Homo sapiens: one gene and its partners. The protein of the gene in region 3 purifies or fractionates together with the protein of the main gene of each other region. This does not show direct contact. Each region holds a gene or a part of one and is shown on either strand. Other genes may lie near its edges.

Region 1 (3,500 bases), on a different chromosome or scaffold from region 3:
TTCCTCACCAAGCAATTACTCATTCCAAAATGAGAAAAGGGCATGTGAACAGTCTCTGCCTTACTGAATGGTGTTATTTCTCAGGCTGTAAATCAAGCTTTAATTTTTTCAAAAACTATCATAATCTGAAATTAGGATATATGGGTTGCGTATCACTTATCCAACATACTTGGGAACAGAAGTGTTTCAGATTTTGAATTTTTTTTTCAGATTTTGGAATATTTGCATATACATAATGAGATATCTTAAGGATGAGACCCAAGTCTAAGTATAAAATTCATTTATGTTTCTGGCTGGGTGCAGAGGCTCATACCTGTAATCCCAGCACTTTGGGAGGCCCAGGCGGGCAGATCACTTGAGGTCAGGAGTTTGAGACCAGCCTGGCCAATATGGTGAAACCCCGTCTCTACTAAAAATACAAAAATTAGCTGGGCGTGGTGGTGCACTCCTATAATCCCAGCTACTTGGGTGGCTGAGGCAGGAGAATCACTTGAACCTGAGAGGTGGAGGTTGCAGTGAGCCGAGATCGCGCCACTGCACTCCAGCCTGGGCGACAGTGCGAGACTCCACCTCAAAAAAATAAACAACAACAACAAAAAAACTTCATTTGTGTTTCTATACACCTTATACACATAGCCTCAAGGTAATTTTATACAATATGTTTAATAATTTTGTGTGTTTTGACTGTGATCTCATGAAATCAGGTGAAGAATTTTCCACCTGTAGTGTCATGTTGATGCTCAAAACGTTTCTGACGTTAAAACACTTTGGACTTCAGATTTTTAGGTTATCTGTATTCCCCTCAAAATGAACTGTTTATTCCACCTGCAGAACTTAAAACTTTTGGCTGAAAGGCAAAGTTTTCATTCAACATTTGCATGGTCTTATGATGTCTGGCAGAATAATGTCTATATCAGGGAAAGGACAGGCAAATCATTAAGCTAGAAGATGAAGAGCTTCTTAAAAATATTCCAGAGTCAAATATTATTTCTCCTCACATTCCACTTGAACTTTCAAGTCTGAGAAAGACTACAAAAATATCCAGGGGAACAGAAATGGTCATACAGCCAACCAAATGAACCAAATAACTTAGCACAGGGTTTCTAAAACTGTGGTCACCCGGCCAGTAGTTTGAGCATCACCAGAGAACTTGTTAAATCAGAAATTGAGGGTAGGGTCCAGTGGTCTCTTTTAAGAAGCCCTCTAGGTAATTCTGACACACACACTGAAGTTTGAGAATCTCTGGTTTCTGATAATCAAGCCCTGACACTGAACACCTTCAATTTTCAGCTTAGGGCTCCTATCATAATGTGCTCCATTGTGGCTGGGAGTCTCTGGGCTATGTTTGTGCCTTTCCGCCAGATATTGCAGTCAAGATTCTACCACAGAGCCAAGGCAAATTAACCTCCACTTCAGACTGCAAGGAGGAGAGAGAATAAAAAATGATTACAAAAAAAGAGATAGATCTATCTGTCCACAGAACAAACTTCTTAGAAAGCACAGAGAGGTGAAATCTTCCAGGTTTCAATTTCTCTGGTATTCTTACTAGTATATTCTCAAAGCTACTAACCATCAACTTTGAAAAAGAACTGAAAAATGACCTTCTAAAAATATATTGACAAAAAAACTGGTTACGTGAATAAAGCTCAGATAGTAATACACGTTTTTAAGAGAACTGAGAGTTGGGAAAACACTGGCATTAAATTCCTTTTTTTAATCTTAAGAACACAATTTGTAAAGTCTCTTTAAAATCATTCTTGCAAGCTTCAGTAAATAATACACAAAAACAACCAATAAACATTATAACAATCATGTTTTTACCTTTTAAATGATTGTTCATCCTATAATTATAAAACATAATGATGCTTCAAAACTCACAGGCAAATGTTAATTAAAAATTAACATAACAAAGTCTCATATTTTCAATAACAACTCCTGCTTTATTTTTTATTGTAGTAATGTATGTATAACATAAAATAACTTTTTAACAGAAAAATTTGGGTAATGCCATACAGACTCTTTTTGCAAGTGGATAAATATTTACAGAGTATTAGTGACCTATCCTAGACCTTTGGGAGAGAATCAGATATTCTTGTTTCCCCAATCAGTTTAAGTCTGTAATTCACTTCATGCCAATGGGATTAAGCCCTTTTCCCAGTTCAAATATTCAAGTTTAGCTGAAATGTGCTAAGCCTGACATTCCTCCTGTATAAGACTACATAGGCTTGACTAGAGACAGATCTGCATTGGCATACATTTCACCCCCATCTCCATTTCTCTTTGCACCTTGGAGAAACAGTGGTGCATTGAGCCATTCTGGTTGAATGCTTCTCCTGACACACATCCTTAAATTGACTCTGACCCAAAGGGAGGTGTGGAGCCAAGAGGGAACACATCACTGTGGCAACTCCCCACAACAGACCCCCAAGCGATTAGTACAGCACTCCCAGCTCTAAGGTCAAATGTAGATCCAACTCCAATATGTGAGTAGATACTCTTGAAAACATTATCATTTTATATTAGTAACCACAATCCTCCAACTCGGTGGCTCTGCATGAACACAAACTTTGCCATGGTGACCATATATCTCGGTTTGTCCTCAACAGTCCAGGTTTATTACTCACAGTGCTTGTATAATTATTAGTGGTGCCCCTTTTGACAATAAAATTGTCCCATATCAAACAATAAAGTATACGGTCATCCAACAGATAGGGCCATTGCATTAAAGGAATAGGCATGACAGACAAACCACAGACAAGTATGTTAGGGGATGTTTGCAGGTCTACTGCTCTAGGCTACGTTTGTAGACTTTATAGACTCTGTCGAGGACTGAGGGAAACACTTAGGAGACTCTCTTAACAATGATCTTAAGTCCAAATAAATAATTCTCCACTTCAAATATAGAACTCAGAACAAAGCAAACAGCAGGTCTTCCTTCTGATTTCAAGGGTCCCTAGAACTATCCACAGCCAACTCTGCATGAAGCATACTGCTGGATGATAATATGTTGAACTGACCCCTTTAACATGTCTAGCTGCAGAATCAACACTTCTGGGAATTTTTCTGCTAAATTCTTCAAAAAGGATGGTCCCAGCTTCCCCTACTATGACAGCCATATCAAATGAACCTGGATGCTCTAAAGGAAATACAGCAAACAGCACATAGTGTCAATGACTGCGCTTGTCCACTCAACAAATATTTATGCCAAAGATCAAAAGTGGCCGCTCATGGATCTCTAAAGCCATCTCTCAGATGTGTATTGTTTGGCCCAGATAGGATTCTTAAATGTTTACAATATTTGCCAGTACTTTAAAATGCGGGGTCATATATAAAAATTCAGATTTCCACTCTCTCTTGGGAAATCAGCAGCTCTAGCAACGCTAGACTTGCATCCTATTCATGCAATTTCCAAGTGGAGCTAAGTAGCACCTTGAGAAAGGCCACCCACTATCCAGTCCTCCATGGTCCTCACTCAACCCTCTTCTTTGTTATTTGAGTTT
Region 2 (3,731 bases), on a different chromosome or scaffold from region 3:
CTTTTTAGGGTAGTGAAAATGTTCCAACATTGATTGTGGTAATGGATTTACAATTTTGTGAATACACTAAAAGCCATTTAATTGTATACTTTAAATGGCGAATTGCATAGTATGTGAATTATAACGCAATAAAGATGTTAAAAAATAGTAAACAGGGCTGGGCGCAGTGGCTCATGCCTCTAATCTCAGCACTTTGGGAGGCTGAGGTGGGTGGATCACTTGAGGTCAGGAGTTCAAGACCAGCCTGGGCAACATGGTGAAACCCTGTCTCTACTAAAAATACAAAAATTAGCCAGGCGTGGTGGTGGACGCCTGTAATCCCAGCTACTTGGGAGGCTGAGGCAGGAGAATTGCTTGATCCTGGGAGGTGGAGGTTGCAGTGAACCGAGATTGTGCCATTGCACTCCAGCCTGGGTGACACAGCAAGACTCTGTCTCAATTTAAAAAAAAAAAAAAAAAAAAAAGGAAACAGATCCAGAGTGGTTAAATAAAAACCTGCTCTACTCACAGGACTATTAAGGCAGTAAAAATGGACCTTTTTAAACTACCAAATCCCCAGGATTTAAACCCTGGTCAGGTGACTTATCCATGGTTATTTCCACGACTACTGAGGAGGAGAGAGAAGAATGTTTATATGAATGCTCTGCCCTCGTGAAAGGCTGGGTCCTAAATGGACATCTGCTGATGCCATCCAGTGTTCCCACGACTGGTAAAGGGAATGAATAAGTTTGTCTGATCCCCAGCTAACACACTGCGATTATGATGGGCCATGTTTAGGGGTTGTTGTCTGTGACTTTAGAAACGAGTTCCAGGTCTTCAGCAAGGGGCTTGGGTATACATGGGATTCACTTGTTTGACCATGGCCTCAGATCTAACCGGATCCAACAGGTCCCCTGTTTAATAGCAGCACTCTCAAGTTTGGTCCCTTTTGTGTGGGACCAAATTAAAGAGCCAAATAAACAAAGGCCGCCGTAATATTTCAACTACAAAGGAAGGAGAGTTCAACAAAAATAGAAATGTTTCCAATAAATAAATAAAATCAACATTCCACTTTAATGACTACTCAAGCCATTCACACAGCAGACTAATTACTTACAAATATTTAAAATACTTAGACTGGTTAATAATCAGTCAATGAGACTTAAGTGACTAAAATTTTGTTTTATTTTATTTTATTATTATTATTTTCTTTTTGAGATGGAGTCTCGCTCTGTCGCCCAGGCTGGAGTGCAGTGGCGCGATCTCAGCTCACTGCAAGCTCCGCCTCCTGGGTTCACGCCATTCTCCTGCCTCAGCCTCCAGAGTAGTTGGGACTACAGGTGCCCGCCACCACACCCGGCTACTTTTTTGTATTTTTAGTAGAGATGGGGTTTCACCATGTTAGCCAGGATGGTCTCTATCTCCTGACCTCGTGATCTGCCCGCCTCGGCCTCCCAAAGTGCTGAGATTACAGGTGTGAGCCACCGCGCCCGGCCAACTAAAATTTTAAAACAGCAAATTAGGAAAAACCACAGTGAAGCCATTACTCATTACTCAATTTTGGCATAAGTTACATTCATCATCCTAAGAAAGTTAAGCAGGCAGAGCTCCTAAGGCCAGAATAATGCATCTGAACTATATTAAACCAAACTGAATTAGTCCTATCAGCCTTATGTATATACAGATTTCACATCTAGCAAGTGTAGTATTTTTGATCCAAGTTGTTTTGGGAAAAAATCCATGTATAAGTGAACCTATGCAGTTCAAATCCATATTGTTCCAGGGTTGGCTGAAAAGGGAAACACTGCTGAGTTCTCACCCTGTACCTACCCCTCTCCACAGTGGTGTGGAGTTAAATACAGTTGTCATTACTTAGTGGACCATATTACTAAATAATTTCTGGACCCTAGCAGCCAAACCATAATAGTGTTACTTACAGTTGAACAAACATTCACTAAATTCTTGCAATGGGCAAGGCACTGTGTTCTACAGTAGGGTGGAGAGGAGCAGGTGCAGGGTGAGAACTCAGTGGTGTTTCCCTTCACAGCTACCCTTGTCTTTAAGGGTCCACCATTGCCTTTAAGTCTGTGTTGAAGTCTTTAAGTCTGTGTTAAAGTCTTTAAGTCTGTGTTAAATACTTAAAGTCTGCCTTTAAGTATCGAATCTTCATGTAGAAGCACCTAGGAGCTAACTGCAGTCAATTTAAATAATGGGATATTTTAAGGAAGAAATAATGAAAGTTTGGGGTAATAAGTCCAGGAAGTAGCTCAAGGCCAAAATTGGGGAGAAAGTCAAACAACTTTATTTTCTGCATAGAGGAATAACTTCAGGAAGTCAAATTTGCACCTACCAACCCCCTCCCCTAAGTCACCATAGCAGGAACAGGAACCAAAGACAAACTGTTATGTACACTGTACATCTACTAAAGCACCTCCTGGTAGAGGTGCTTGTGCAAATGCTCACTTTTCCCACCAGGATTATAAATTCCTTGAGAGCAGGAACAATGTTTGATCCATTTCTGTATCACCCATGCTGTTACAACACAGTGCTTTACCCACTGCAAGATTTAGTAAATGTTTATTCAACTGTAAGTAACACTTTTATGGTTTGGCTGCTAGGGTCCAGAAATTATTCAGTAATATGATCCACTAAGTAATTACAGCTGTATTTATTATGTGAATCTACTTTTTACATATAACTAAAGGCTATAAGGAATAAAATGTTAGGCTGGGTGTGGTGGCTCATGCCCATAATCCCAGCACTTTGGGAGGCCGAGGCAGGCAATCACGAGGTCAGGAGATCGAGGCCATCCTGGCTAACACAGTGAAACCCCGTCTCTAATAAAAATACAAAAACAAAATTAGCCGGGCGTGGTGGCGGGTACCTGTAGTCCCAGCTACTTGGGAGGCTGAGGTGGGAGAATGGCGTGAACCTGGGAGGTGGAGCTTGCAGTGAGCCCAGATTGCACCACTGCACTCCAGCCTGGGCAACAGAGCGAGACTCCATCTCAAAAAAAAAAAAAAAAGAACAAAATGTTAATTTAAAAATCCTAAAACATAAAGCCTATATATGAAAACACCCTAAGGACTTTGTCAGAGGTACAGTACAGACAAATTTCAGAAAGAGGTTAAAAGCTCCACAAAAGGACCTTGTGTGTCTCATTCACATATAGGTGCTATATCCCTTGTACCATGAACAAGACCTGATTTAGTGAACCCTAGGTGCAAACCTGAATTGAATAAATTCGAACTCTCTGGGTTTTCAAATTAAATCTAGTCTTTTATTGTTGAAGCCTTGATTAAACACTGTGCTCTCCTATGACCTTACCAAGAAAAAAAAAGGAGAATTAAAAGAATCTTAGCCTTGAACAAAAAGCTGTTTACATCTAGTGCCAATAAAATAAACAATTCAAATTAAATGGCTTTAGATGTTCTTTGATTTTCTCCAAAGTGTTCAAAATCTTTGAATTTTAGAAAACCAGAAGAGATGGTCAGAGAGACAGAAAGATTCGCTACAGGATGAGAAGGAAAGAAGAAACCCCAATTCGGTAGTGTATACTCTTTGGAATTAGAAAAAAAAGGGAAACAACTCCAGTCAACTCATTCATTTAATAAGGTGCCACCCATTCATTCCTCACTTTCCTCTCCTGGTCAAGTAAGTCACAATTCAAACCCCACCGACAATCTGTGATAAGAGTTCTGTATTCCTTTATGGCCAATAAGAGCTGAAACTAGAGATTCAGAGTTTCATAA
Region 3 (3,731 bases):
ACACAGGATCCACTGACTGGGCAAGAATCTCCTCCCCTGTTCTACACTGAATACCATGGAATCCAGTTACCTGGGCTGCATTCCCCTCATGGCCTCTGGCTGAACTGAAGCTCAAGGGACTTCAGCAAGGCTTTCATCAGCTTTATTGTGAAGAAAGAGATCAAGGAATCTAGATCTGGAACATACCTGCCCCTGCTCAGAAAACCGCCCTCTGCTAGTGCTGACCAACACTCTTGCCCATCACAGGTTCATTGCCACAGAGTTCGTATTTTCCTTAATGTGTTTTCCCCTCTTTCCTTCACAAGGAAGCTCTGTGTGCATTTCTAGATCCACTATCATCCAGTTCATCTGAGCTCACCTCTCCAAGCCCAGCTTGGGCAGAAAAAGGGTTCACTCTCAGTGCGCTGCCTGTGTTCCCGAAGGAAACCCCTGCACATGAGCAGATGGGTAGAGCCAGGAGAGCCCAAACCTCAGGCCCAGGCCCCACAGGGTTCCCCACTTGCCCCTGTACTCAAGAAGAGGCTTTGTTAATAAGCCTTCCATAGCTTGTGTTTCAGCTTCCTGAGAGAATAGTTGAGGCTTCAGAGAGAGGATCAGCAGATCTCTTTAGAGATGTGAAGACCGGCATTTGTGGGGAAGCAGGAGAGTTAGCTTCAGAGGACTTGGGGTGAAGCCTGACACTGCCTTATTTCCTCACCAGCCATGGAAACCAGGACTGAGAGAGGGCAGGCAGATCCCTCAGCTGCACTGAGGGCCACTTGAAGGAGCCCTTACAATCAGGCAACTCAGCACACATAGTCTCTCGAATTGAATGCTTCACAGAAAGCTCTCGAGACCTAGGTCCATGGAGAAGGTCAGGACTGCCTTACCTGTGGTTGCAGAGGGGCAAACCCAGAGAAACTGTCTTGATCCACCACAGATGCCACGACCTAAAATCAAGGACAGGAGGGTGTGAGGCTCTGCCAGCACTGTTTCCATTCTTCTGGGTCTCCCTCTTTGCTCATGCCCTAGACCTGTTCTTACGTGAGCCTGGTTTCAGACGTGGACAGTAACTAAGGATTAGATTCCTGAGCCTCTGGATTAGGATTTCAGCAACTGAAGAAACGAGCATTCACCCCACCCCTGCTAACACAGGCTTGCTTTCTTCTCTCTTAAAAAAGAAATGTTTTTAATTGAGGTGCAATTTGTATAACATCAAATTATCTTTTTTTTTTTTTTTTTTTTTGAGACGGAGTCACGCTCTGTTACCCAGACTGGAGTGCAGTGGCGTGATCTCAGCTCACTGCAACCTCTGCCTTCCAGGTTCAAGTGATTCTCCTGCCTCAGCCTCCCGAGTAGCTGATATTACAGGCACCCGCCACTGTGCCCGGCTAATTTTTGTATTTTCAGTAGAGACAGGTTTTCACCATGTTGGCCAGGCTGGTCTCAAACTTCTGACCTCAGGTGATCTACCCATCCAGCCTCCCAAAGTGCTGGGATTATAGGCATGAGCCACCACGCCCAGCCCAAATTAATCATTTTAAAGTGAATGATTCAGTGGCATTTATCACATTCACAATGCTGTGCAACTACTGCCTCTCTCTAATTCCAAAATATTTTCATCACCTCAGAAGAAAATGCTGTACCCATTAAGCAGTGTGTCCACACTCCCCTTTCCCCTAAACTGGCAACAACCGGTTTGCTTTCTGTGACTGACTTGAGCCCTCTTCTCTGAGTTTTAAAAATCAGATGTAAAGCTAGCTTTATTCACAAATATGCTTAAACTATAGATAATTTTCATCATTCATTCATATAATCAAAACATTTTTGCTGAGAGCTGTTATGTGTCTAGCACTGTGCCAGGCTGTGAGGACTCAGTGGAGATCAAGCAGACATGGTCTCTGCTCTCTCAGTGCTTAGAGGCTGCACCAGATATTTCCTATAAACGGAATTGTACAACATGTGGCCTTTCGTATCTGGCTTCCTTCACATAGCATAATGTTTTCAAGGTCCATCCATGTTGTATCATGAATCATACTCCATTCCTTTTTATGGCTACGTAGTATTCTGTTGCATGGATATATCACATTTTGATTACTCATTCATCAGTTGATAGATATTTGGAGGGCTTCCACTCACCCAGGCTTTCTTGACCTCTGCTGCTATGCTAGACCCAGCTACCCGACCACTGGGCAACTTTAGCCCTATGAATGTGTCAAGTCAAATGTGGTTTTGGAAGGGCACTGCTGACTCACTTCAGACCATGTCTGAAAGAATTTAAGACTTGGATTTATTATTATTATTACTATTTTGAGATGGAGTTTCATTCTTGTTGCCCAGGCTGGAGTGCAATGGCATGATCTCAGCTCACTGCAACCTCCACCACCCGGATTCAAGCGATTCTCCTGCCTCAGCCTCCCAGGTAGCTGGGATTACAGGCATGCACCGCAGCACCCAGCTAATTTTGTATTTTTAGTAGAGATGGGGTTTCACCATGTTGGCCAGCCTGGTCTTGAACTCCTGACCTCGTGATCCACCTGCCTCAGCCTCCCAAAGTGCTGGGATTACAGGCATGAGTCACCATGCACAGCCAAGACCTGGATTTAGAAGAAGTCCAATTTAAGACATAGTCTAAACATAGGGCTGTGGAAGTGGGGAAAGACTCCTCAGCCCACTAAAACGTGAACTACAAGGAGCATTAATCCAAGAGGATCCCATGCTGATCTCTTTCCCTAACATGTTCTCTTCATATTTATTTTTATTTTTTAGAAACAGAGTCTCAATCTGTTGCCCAAGCTAGAGTACAGTGGTGCAATCATAGCTCACTGTAGCCTTGAACTCCTGGGCTCAAGTGATCCTCTCACCTCAGCCTCTCCACTAGCTAGGCTGGTCTCAAACTCCTGGCCTCAAGTGATCCTCCCACTTCAGCCTTCCAAAGCACTGGGATTACAGGCATGAGCTACCCTGCCTGGCCCTCTCTTCACATTTAGTGAGCTCCTCATGGCTGTGTTTTCCCTCCATTGGCTCAGTCCCTAAGACTCAGCATCCTGTGAGTAACCCTGTGGCTCTCACCCAGGGTCGAGCTGGAAGGGAGAAATGGGAGCAGCTTGGAGAAAATAAACTAGACATGGTTGCCTATCTTTCAGCCAAACCTCTGTCCTATAAACAAGTCTCTCATTGCCATCCCAGGGACAGAGCCACAAGGAGGCTACCCTCTTCTCAAGAGTCCCTCCCACCTTGCTCCACATGGCCCGGGCCACAGGAGACTCAGGGGAAGCTGAGCAATCCCACCTACCGTCGCCTTGCCTAGGTAATCCTTCTTGGCCAGCTGAGCCACTTGTCTCTCATTTGGTCGAAACAGCTTGCCCACAGGGATCACCACTGGCTCATATAGCTTCTGCTTCTGTAACACAGAAAACGTAGCATTCCCTTATGTGAAAATGGGGGTGACGATGCTTGTCCTGCCTCCCTCAGTGAATAGATGCAAGAATTCATTGAGATAACCACATAGAAGCCCTTTTCCAAATGAGTGTTGTCATTCCTCTAGGGTGTTAAGGTAGGAACCCTTGGTTTCAATACCACCTTCTGCTGCGAGGCCACATGGACATTGCTGCTATTTGTTGCTATTCAGCACCCTCTTTTCCCAGAGGAACTGCTCCTCTCCCACTCTGTGTGCTGTCCGTGGGGTTCTCTCATGGTGTAGAGGGCACCACCACGACAAGGCTGGCCCGGGATCAAGCAAGGCTCATGAC

What was found.
Region 1: the proteins of NCF2 (region 3) and TBC1D4 purify together in Homo sapiens (affinity purification with mass spectrometry; one large-scale study listed by BioGRID and IntAct). This does not show direct contact.
Region 2: the proteins of NCF2 (region 3) and BPGM purify together in Homo sapiens (affinity purification with mass spectrometry; 2 studies listed by BioGRID and IntAct, with this or other methods). This does not show direct contact.

What each region holds. Positions count from the first base shown.
Region 1 is NC_000013.11:75,475,670-75,479,169, forward strand, and holds part of TBC1D4 (TBC1 domain family member 4), read right to left. Parts: intron 1-3,500.
Region 2 is NC_000007.14:134,670,637-134,674,367, reverse strand, and holds part of BPGM (bisphosphoglycerate mutase), read right to left. Parts: intron 1-3,731. UniProt on the Homo sapiens protein: Plays a major role in regulating hemoglobin oxygen affinity by controlling the levels of its allosteric effector 2,3-bisphosphoglycerate (2,3-BPG). Also exhibits mutase (EC 5.4.2.11) activity.
Region 3 is NC_000001.11:183,569,911-183,573,641, forward strand, and holds part of NCF2 (neutrophil cytosol factor 2), read right to left. Parts: intron 3,383-3,731; coding exon 3,275-3,382; intron 930-3,274; coding exon 870-929; intron 1-869. UniProt on the Homo sapiens protein: Subunit of the phagocyte NADPH oxidase complex that mediates the transfer of electrons from cytosolic NADPH to O2 to produce the superoxide anion (O2(-)).